Regions from separate parts of the Homo sapiens genome. Here region 1 is linked to region 2. The links come from fine-mapping of genetic effects on gene expression. A gene starts in region 2. The other region holds a variant in brackets. All regions are shown on one strand. Distances are between the middles of the regions.

Region 1 (5,000 bases), 51 kb after region 2:
GCTGTCCTTCCCACTTCTCCAATTGCTTTCCCAATGATTGAGCCATGACAATTCCTCCAAATCATCCTGCTTTGTCTCCTGCAGCTCCCTCTTCTGGCCTGGACTCTGCTGTTTGCCAGTCTGCAATGCTGCCTACGTTGCCCTAATTCTCTTCGTAAGATCATGACATTTTAGAATCTGAGAGCACATTAAAGAACATCTATGACAATTACCTCCATTGTTGCTCTAGTTGCCCTAATTTTTGTTTTAAGTTTTCTTATTGCCACGAAATCTTCTTCTTCCATTTCTTCTCTTATCCCTAGAAGGTCTAAAATTACTGACAGGACTGGTTATATTCAGTAGCCAGAGACAGCTGCCCTTGCTTCCACATAAAGCCACTCCCTACTTTTCAGCTCACACATAATCTCCATGAGAGCAATCAACAGGGTCAGATGGAACTAACTCTCACTCTCCTGATAGAAAACACCTGTTCTTACATAGGATTTCCAGTGAAATCTGTTGCAAGTTGGGTTTTGTTATAGGTTAACCAGTCAAAAGCTGATTAGAGGATAGCATACAGCAATTCTTTTCAGCTTTCACGTGCATATAGATAGCCTGGGAATCCTATGAAAATGCAGATTCTGGTTGAGTAGGGTTGGACTGCGGCCTGAGACTCTGCACTTCTAATGAGTTTCCAGGTGACGTCAAATCTACTGAGCCATAAAATATTGCTTTGAATAGCAACATTATGGAGAATGTTGGAGAATTTCAAAGTAGTAGGATCACACATCACTCTGTTGGATACAGTAAATACTTAAGACTTTCTTATGTGTCAGGCACTGGCTATTCAAAAATGAACAAAAGGCTGGGCGTGGTGGCTCATGCCTATAATCCTAACCCTTAGAAGGCCCAGGACAGAGGCTTTCTTGAGCCTAGGAGTTCAAGACCAACCTGGGCATTATGGCAAAATCCCGTCTCTACAAGAAAAATTACCTGGGCATGGTGTCACATGCCTGTAGTCCCTGCCACTTGGGAGGCTGAGGTGGGAGGTTGAGGCTGCAGTGAGTCCTGACCCCACCACTGCACTCCAGCCTGGATGACAGAGTGAGACCCAATCTCCAAAGGAAGAAAAAAAAAAAAAAAAAAAACCAATGAACAAGAAAGACATGGTTCTTCAAAGATTTTAGAGTGTAGTGGGGAGAAATGCAGGCACAGATTTCAAAATGAAGTGGTAATTACTGGGCATTTGGAGTACCTAGAGAAGAGCTGCGTAGCCCAAGAAAACCATGGCAAGCCCCCACAATAGGCAGAGGAGCCCCTAAAGGAGAGACTGAGATGGAATGGCCAGAGGAGGAGAACCAAGAGACTGTAGAAACATGGAGCTCAAAGGAATAGAAACGAAATTTCAAGAAAGACTTCAGTGGTCAGATGAAACAGGAATGATGAAGGGATACGAGCCCAGGTGCCTAGTGGTGTTCAGCACAGAGAAGACAGGCCGTGAGTATGTGTTGACCTACCTGGAAGATCATGTAGCCACATTCCAGCATCTTACAAAGAAGAAAACTTCTTGCGAGAAAGATGATTTGCCCTAACCCACATAGTTCTTAGCTACAGTCTTAGATTTATTGATACCTCACCTAGGACACTAACAAAGAAAACCAAAGCCATAAAAGTGTAAACAAATGGTAGGTAGCACAACATTTCATTATGTAAAAAGTTATGCTGACATTGACAACTAGGAAGGGATATTAACATGTATGGCATACACTTTTTGTTCCAAACATCATGCTAAGCACTTCCACTTATGTTACCTGGTTCTGCCCCTGAATGAACCCTAAGAAATAGGTATTCTCCTTTTTATAGAAGAGACACTTGTGACACTAGCGGCCTAATGTGACAGAGACACATGAGGAATTCATTGCAGGGTGCCCGGGAAATAAATCTTACTGGGGTTTCAGGAGTCATAGGTTATCATTGCTGCTGTGTGATCCTTCTCTGGCAAGCAGAGTTACTCCATTACAAGAAAAGACTAAGGGAACACTAATAACACATGTCTGGAGTATAATTAGACATAGATCCAGAAAGGAAAGCGAATCATTTCAGAAATGAATGTGTGCACTTAAGAGTCTGTTTATAGCATTTAGCAGTTTATTAGATTTTACTGGTTTTGTCTTGCAAATTCAGTTTGAGGCCGACAGACGTGCTTTTATCATCACTCTTAACTCCTTTGGCACTGAATTGAGCAAAGAAGACCGAGAGACCCTCTATCCAACCTTCGGCAAACTCTATCCTGAGGGGTTGCGGCTGTTGGCTCAAGCAGAAGACTTTGACCAGATGAAGAACGTAGCGGATCATTACGGAGTATGTGATGACACTGGCTTCCCTAAGTCCTTTGTGTTCATTCATTTCCATGTGCTTTAGAAGCTCACACATCAAATTTCCGCTTATACTCAAAAGAAGTAATAATATTTGTAAGGTAGCAATCAGTGTTTCTTGCTGAAGCAATCTCTCCCTAAGAAACACGTTAAGTTTCTAGCCCAAGCTGCTAATTTTTAAAGTTCCTGCCAAGCAAGTACTTGTTTAAATCTCCAAGGAATGGTCATCTGAGCACTCCTTTTGAAGTGTTTGATAAAGCAAGTTCCCCCAGGAGACTGGTTCAGTGTTCTGGAAATGTGAGCTCATATCAACGTTATGTAAAATAGTCTAACCCAGCAGCCCTTTCAGGTACCCACTAGGGAAACAAGGTTAGCCACAGAACGTCTAGGTGGACGGCAAGGAACAATATGGATGTATTAGTTTTTCCACTCACCTTGCTGAGTGGCCAGAAATCAGGAGAGGAAACATAGCTGCTTGTGTCCTTCCCCCACTCCAGCATCCA[T/G]TTGCTCTTGGAGCGCCTGAAGCTCCTCAGCTTAAGGTTGTACACTTTGGCTCAGCTTCCATTCCCTCTCACTTGCACACATTTACATAACCTCCAGGTAACTTTTCCAGGGCTAGAATGACACTCATCTTTTCCTCCAGATTTCTGAAGCACTCCAGGAAAGATGAAAGTCAGCAAATGCGTAACCCTTGTGACATCTCATATGTAATTGCGTGAGACTCTTTAGCGTAATATTAAAATTTGAATTTCTCCCAAATTCCACCCCTTCCACACTGGAAACTACATGTGAATTTTATCAATTTTCATCTCAAAGAACCATGAACCCTTACTGACCAAATCATGAACATTCACTGAGCTTCTATAATGTACCTAGCTAGCCCTAAGAACCTGAGTGAGAAAATGAGCTCAAACACTGTATACTGAGAGTTGAATTGCCTTGTAGCCCTGAACAAGCCAATAGGCTAGAATTTCATCCACACTCTTGTTATTTGGATTTTTTTATTGTTTCTTCGGGAGGCCAAAATCCTATAAAAAAACATTCAGTCCTCCTGGTATTTTTTTTTAAATAGGTACACAATTTCTATAATGCTAGGAAAAATATATTTATATACATTTATAAGAAATGAAAATGTCTTTAAAATTAATGTCTTTGTTTTTAAGGTATACAAACCTTTATTTGAAGCTGTAGGTGGCAGTGGGGGAAAGACATTGGAGGACGTGTTTTACGAGCGTGAGGTATGATATAAGTGGAAATACTATTAGCTTATTTTTCTCTTACTGTGGATTTTATATATTTTCTTACTTTGGGTTTTCTTTTTACAGCTGATCATGCCAATTGATTAGGCACATTCATAGCTTGATAGTCAGTGATGTATTATTGCTACAAAGTTACACACAGACCTAGGAATCTTTGTGCTAGCAGTGCTGCTAAAGTTTGTAGCTTTTCTTTCTTTTTTTTTTTTTTTTTTATACCCTCCTAAAAGAGTTTACTTAAAAACTGCGAGAAGTAATGGAAGTACATTCAATTCCTCATGGAATTTGCTGAAGAACATTATTACAAATGCTACAAATTTTAGTGTAAAATTTTGGTTAATCATATGAGATAATGTTTCTTTTTTAAAAAAAAAATTGTGTTATACTTTAAGTTCTGAGATACATGTGCAGAATGTGCAGGTTTTGTTATGTAGGTATACGTGTGCCATGGTGGGTTGCTGCACCCGTCAACCCATCATCTACTTTAGGTATTTCTCCTAATGCTATCCCTCCCCTATTCCCCCCACCGACAGGCCCCAGTGTGTGATGTTCCCCTCCCTGTGCTCATATGTTTTCATTGTTCAACTCCCCCTTATGAGTGAAAACATGTGGTGTTTGGTTTTTCTGTTCCTGTGTTAGTTTGCTGAGAATGATGGTCTCCAGCTTTATCCATGTCCCTGCAAAGGACATGAACTCATCCTTTTTTATGGCTGCATAGTATTCCATGGTATATATGTGCCACATTTTCTTTATCCAGGCTATCACTGATGGGCATTTGGGTTGGTTCCAAGTCTTTGCTATTGGGAAAAGTGCTGCAATAAACATATGTGTGCAGGTGTCTTTATAGTAGGATGATTTATAATCTTTTAGGTATATACCCAGTAATGGGATCGCTGGGTCAAATGATATTTCTGGTTCTAGATCCTTGAAGAATTGCCACACTATCTTCCACAATGGTTGAACTAATTTACACTCCCACTAACAGTGTGAAAGCGTTCCTATTTCAATTTGGAGCTTTTCTTGTGATTCTACAAACTTACTTTAATAACTTCCGTTGTCTACATTTATCTGCAGAGTGACACTCTCTCTTTAGAACTTTCTGAGTTGTCACCATACTCCTCTATTTGGCCCAATTTAGAGATTGCCTGTTTAAACACAAATAAGCACTGCACAAGTTCAAGCCAGTCAGTAGCTTAATATTATTCCATAATGTTCCAAATAAGTTGATGATCTGTGTTACTTTTTTTCTTTCCTCAGGTACAAATGAATGTGCTGGCATTCAACAGACAGTTCCACTACGGTGTGTTTTATGCATATGTAAAGCTGAAGGAACAGGAAATTAGAAATATTGTGTGGATAGCAGAATGTATTTCACAGAGGCATCGAACTA
Region 2 (5,429 bases):
AAGACTGTGAAGAAGCTATGGTGTGCACATTTAACAACTGGCTGTCCATAAAAATGTATGGCATGTTTATTTTAAATTTTACTGATGCAAAGAATGTGTCTCAACCAATTTATAAGCAACAGTAAAATAATACTTTTTTTTGAGATGTGCTTTCACTGTGTCACCCAGGCTGGAATGCAATGGTGTGATCTCGACTCACTGCAAGGTGCGCCTAGCCAGCTCAAGTGATACTCCCACCTCAGCCTCCCAAGTAGCTGGGACCACAAGTGCACACCGCTATGCCTGGTTAATTTTTAAAAATGTTTTGTGGACACTGGGTCTCACTATGTTGCCTAGGCTGGTCTCAAACTCTTGGCCTTAAGCAATCCACCTGCCTGAGTCTCCCAAAGGGCTGAGATTACAGGCGTGAGCCAGCCAAAAAAATACTCTTTATTGTAAATTCCAATTCAATAGTCAATTGATTTTCACAGAATGCTTTCATTGATTTTTTTGTTTGTTCAATTCTTCTATCTGTACCCAACCTATACTTGGAATTGACAAATAAGTGAATATCCAACATAAATGTTGGCTAATATTTCTATTTACATTAATGAACAATATGAAAGTGAAACAACGAAGACATATGTAAAACTTCTCTTGATCTTCATAAAGGGAGTGGCTTCCTTGCTGAATCAGATAACAGTTTTTAAATACTGAAAGAACATTTCTTCAAATTTTTTTGCAATTTACAATATAATGGCTATAAACATTACATACTTTTACTTTGCTTTATTAACATTTTCTCCATCTTTTTCTCAAGTCCAGACAATTAACCAAACAGTGAATCAAGCCCTGATTTGTAGCATTTGCCCATTTTCATGGTATAAATACTTCATTCCTGCCATGGTCTGCTGCAAGCTACCGTCATTATGTCATTAAACCCGGAGTTGAGAAGAGATGCATGAGAGCATGTCATTATATAGAATATCTACCTTACAAATACAATAGACATAATAACCTCAAGTGCATAAATAACAGTAAAACATAGTAAAATAATTTAAAAAAGATAAGTGTGGTATTTATAATTTATTTAAGTTGTATTAGTTTGAACTCTATAAAACTGTGGATATGTAACCATCTTTAGACCACAGAAGTGATAAATAAGTGACTGATTCAACATAAAACACACTCAGGATGTTTAAGGATGGTGGAATTGTGGTGGGTGGATAGAGAATGATAACAATAATGGCAGCCTCTACTATTTATTGAATACTTTCAAAGTCTGGGCACTGTGAAAAGCTAGGTTTGATTCTCTGTGATTTTCAACAATCAAAGCAGAATTTACATTGATTCCTTTTTATCTAGCTTCTCCCAAACAGTTCGGAAAAACCCTGATAGAGACTGGAGAATTTCTGGGACTTTAGTTCCAATTAAAGATTTGACACAATATATATGAAACACTTTATATGCAAATAGCATTCATGATATTTTACATAATTTTTTAACTAAATACAATATATAGCAGAACAAGCACTCCTTTTGGAGTATGAAACTCAACACAAGTCCCAGCTTCATTAAATACTTACTGTATTGCCAGCTGTGCATTTTGAGCTGCCTCACAGCTTCTGAGGGCTGGTTCCTTATTTGTGATTTTAGTAATAATACTGTCTGTGCAGATTCACATTGCAGAATAAACAGGAGATTCAAGTAGGAAAAAGAAAATAGAGTGCCTTCTAAACAGTCCAATTTTGCAGAGGTAGTGGCTTATTATTATAGAATCATAGCCTTCTGTATCTGTTTCCAGGATTGTTTCCTGGGCTATGCCCTTCGACTGGCTGGGAAGCAACTACCAGCCTTTGGCAATTTTAGGGCATTTCTGACCATTTGTCTTACAAATGAACTGTGTGGTAGAATTAGGTTCTCATGACTCTTCAAATTGCCTAGTCACATTTGATTTACTTATATTATAATAATAATGATAATAATAATTATCATTATTATTTTGAGACAGAGTCTCACTCTGTCCTCCAGGCTGGAGTGCAGTGGCACAATCTTAGCTTACTGCAACTTCCGCCTCCCACGTTCAATCGATTGTCGTGCCTCAGCCTCCCGAGTAGCTGGGATTACAGGCATGCACCACAAAGCCTGGCTAATTTTTGTATTTTTGGTAGAGACGAGGTTTCACCGTGCTGGCCAAGCTGGTCTCCACCTCAGGTGATCTGCCCCGCTAAGCCTCCGCAAGTGCTGGGATTACAGGTAAGCCATCATGCCAGCCTAAATTAAATTATTTTTATTAAAAACCCTCTCTTTGTTCATATTGATAGTCCTCAAAGAATTTTGGATTAGTGTAAATTACAGTTGAAAGCTCAGCTGGTGGTAGGAATGTTTACAAAACATTCAGGAGTTTGAAGCCTCCCAATAGTAAAGCTGGGAAGGGTCCCATCTGTGGGAGAGTAAGAATTGAGCCTGGATCCTCCCCTGACTCTCATATCTCTTTTTCCCAATCGTGGTTTGTTGCCTGGGTTTACTTGGGTCATCTGGCTGATTCATTGTTGCTGTATAAACAGGGCTGAGTGTGCTGTGTTGAAAGCCACTGAAACCAGAGGAAACTAGTCACAAAAACCCTGACTATCACCTGATAGATTGCTTGTGCTGCCTGATAATTACTCGCACTTTTCCCAGGCTAGTGCAAATCTTCAGGGGCCGTCCAGGACTACAGAGCTGTTTCACCCTACCTTGGCTTCAATCTCTTCCCCCATGCTCGAAGGTGCGGAGCTGTACTTCAACGTGGACCATGGCTACCTGGAGGGCCTGGTTCGAGGATGCAAGGCCAGCCTCCTGACCCAGCAAGACTATATCAACCTGGTCCAGTGTGAGACCCTAGAAGGTAAGTGTAGCTCTTCTCACCCTTTAAAAAGAAAAAAAAAAAAATGAAATGATGTCCCTCTCCAGAAGCATGGAGAAAAAAAGCCCATAATCATATGGTTTGAGAGTTCTGAGCAGATCCTTATTCCTGCAGTCCAGATTTCTGGGGTCCATAAACTTGAATGAGGAAAAAAAAATAAATCTCTATTTTTAATCTCTAAGTGAACTATAACATCTTTCATTACTAATGTAGGCAACAAATCACAGTAGTTGAGATAAGTAGTATCTGTGACACTGTCACCAACAAAAATTCAATGTTTTCATATCCCTTTAAAGTTCTTGCAGATACCTTGAAATGTCATGTATGTTTTCTCTATTTTGAAGTAAGATACCACACTCATCCTTTATTATTTATTTATTTATTGAGATGGAGTTTCACTCTTGTTGCATAGGCTGAAGTATAGTGGCGTGATCTTGGCTCACCACAACCTCCGCCTCCCGGGTTCAAGCAATTCTCCTGCCTCAGCCTCCCGAGTAACTGAGATTACAGGTGCCCACCACCTGGCCCGACTAATTTTTGTACTTTTTGGAGAGACGGGTTTTCACCATGTTGGCCAGGCTGGTCTTGAACTCCTGACCTCAGGTGATCCGACTGCCTTGGCCTCCCAAAGTGCTGGAATTACAGGCGTAAGCCATCATGCCTGCCAGATTCTTATACATTTTAAAGACATTTTGACAACTATATCTAAAAATATTTGGTTTCCTTTATAATCCTGTGTATTTTCATTCTACATATTTATAAACATTTGGAGAAGGGCTTCACCAAACTGCCAAGGGATCTATGACAAAGAAAAAATATATATATTTAAAACCTTGTTCTATAGAATTTTATTCTATCACATTTCTCAGTATCTATTGATTTGAGAGTTTGAAGTCTACCTTTAACTGAAGTTAAAAAAAAAAAAAATCAAGAGCTGTTACTGGTGGGGCCAGCCCTGGATTCAAAAGTCCTGGATTTGACTTCTGTCATGTCACCAGTAGGTGACCTGTGGCTCCAAGCCTCTGAGTCTCAGTGTTCTCAGTTATAATAAATAAATACTCAACAAGTGGAAATTGTCTCTAAACCACATTTTTTTTTTCAAAACCTTACCAAAGATTCCACGTCTGTAACAGTATTTTTATTATTAAAAACAGCTACACTCACTGATTTTGAAACATACTTACAAAACCCATATAGGTCAATAATAAGGTGGTTTAAAGCTTCCAGATTATTCTAGAAAAGGCAAGAAAGCACTAAGAATAAAGCCTCCTAGGAAGGGTATTAAAAGGCAAAAACGAACCAATGAACCTTCTAAAGGTGACTTTGCAGTCTCCTCAATTAGGGCTGAAGGGTCCTGAGGCCACTTGTTTATAGTTCTGACCAGTTAAAGCCAGAGTTCAGACAGAACCACCCAAGTTACGACAAACCCTGCACTTCCATTAGCATTGGAAACAGCAAGAACCTTTTAGATAACTAATTCTGTTGGCTACAAATAATTACAGTAAAACCCCAAATCCTAAGTCACTTCAGCATATTAAAATAAGAGTTTGGTGACTGGAGAACGTCGGTCACGTATAGAAAATCTACATAAAATAAAGAACACAGGGCTGACTAAGTGTTTCTGAGAGGAGACATTTTAATGAATTCTATTTAGTTTTCAGCCAAGCTCTTAAATGAGCTAAGGAATGCAAATTTAAATGCAAGGAATACATAAAATATCTTTGTGATACCAAAAAAAAAAAAGAAGGAAACAAAAAAAAGAATTCAGAGATAAATCAAGGGAAGCCATATCTAAAGCCATATAAAGAATTCTAGGCCTGGAGAGGTGGCTCATGCCTGTAAAACCCCGTGTCTACTAGAAATAGAAAAAGTTAGTTGGATGTGGTGGCAGACACCTGTAATCCCAGCTACTCAGGAGGTTGAGGCAGGAGAATTTCTTGAACCTGGGAGGCAGAGGTTGCAGTGAGCTGAGATCATGCCACTGCACTCCAGCCTGGGTGACACAGTGAAATTCTGTCTCAAAAAAAAAAAAAAAGAATTCTAGAAAATAGGTCGGGTATAGTGGCTCATGCCTGTAATCCTAGCATTTTGAAAGGCCTAGGTGTGAGGACTGCTTGAGGCCAGGAGTTCAAGACCAGCCTGAGCAACACAGCAAGACCTCGTCTCTACTAAAAATTTTGAAAATTGGCTGGGCATGGTGGTGCATGCCTGTAGTCCCAGCTGCTTGGGAGGCTGTGGCAGGAGGATGGCTTGAGCCCAAAAGGTTGAAGCTGCAGTGAGCTGTAACTGCACCACTGTGCTCCAGCCTGGGCGACAGAGTGAGACCCTGTCTCAGGAAAAAAAAAAAAAAAAAAAAAAAGAATTCTAGAAAGTAAAAAGATAAAAATCAGGAATTTAAAAATTGTACCCTATATTTTCTGCCAAGGTCCCTTTTAATCAAAAGACTTGTCGAGGGAAGGGGATAGATAGAAGGAGGAAGAAATGAGATTAACAGATCTATCCTCTACATAGACAGTTAGCTGAATCTGGTATCTTCATTTTCAGT

Which allele goes with the higher level. Positions count from the first base shown, and alleles are read on the strand shown. Sizes are in standard deviations (SD) of each study's normalised expression.
For the expression in monocytes of the gene that starts at base 2,668 in region 2, T is the high allele of the variant in region 1 and G is the other (moderate effect, 0.53 SD a copy in Quach 2016).

What was found. PIP is the estimated chance that this variant, and not a neighbour inherited with it, causes the effect. A credible set is the group of variants that fine-mapping cannot tell apart.
Region 1: its variant is the best candidate, but not a certain one, in a credible set for the expression of ATP6V0D2 in monocytes (Quach 2016, PIP 0.72).

Annotation. Positions count from the first base shown.
Region 1 is chr8:86,147,949-86,152,948 of GRCh38, forward strand. It overlaps ATP6V0D2 (ATPase H+ transporting V0 subunit d2), which reads left to right. Exons shown (of 8, transcript NM_152565.1): 6 at 2,164-2,340; 7 at 3,518-3,592; 8 at 4,868-5,000. Among named protein-coding and RNA genes, the nearest start is that of ATP6V0D2, 52 kb to the left of the region's middle. The variant T/G (reference allele first, on the strand shown) is at 2,858.
Region 2 is chr8:86,096,243-86,101,671 of GRCh38, forward strand. It overlaps ATP6V0D2 (ATPase H+ transporting V0 subunit d2), which reads left to right and starts at 2,668. Exons shown (of 8, transcript NM_152565.1): 1 at 2,668-2,866. The coding sequence starts at 2,737.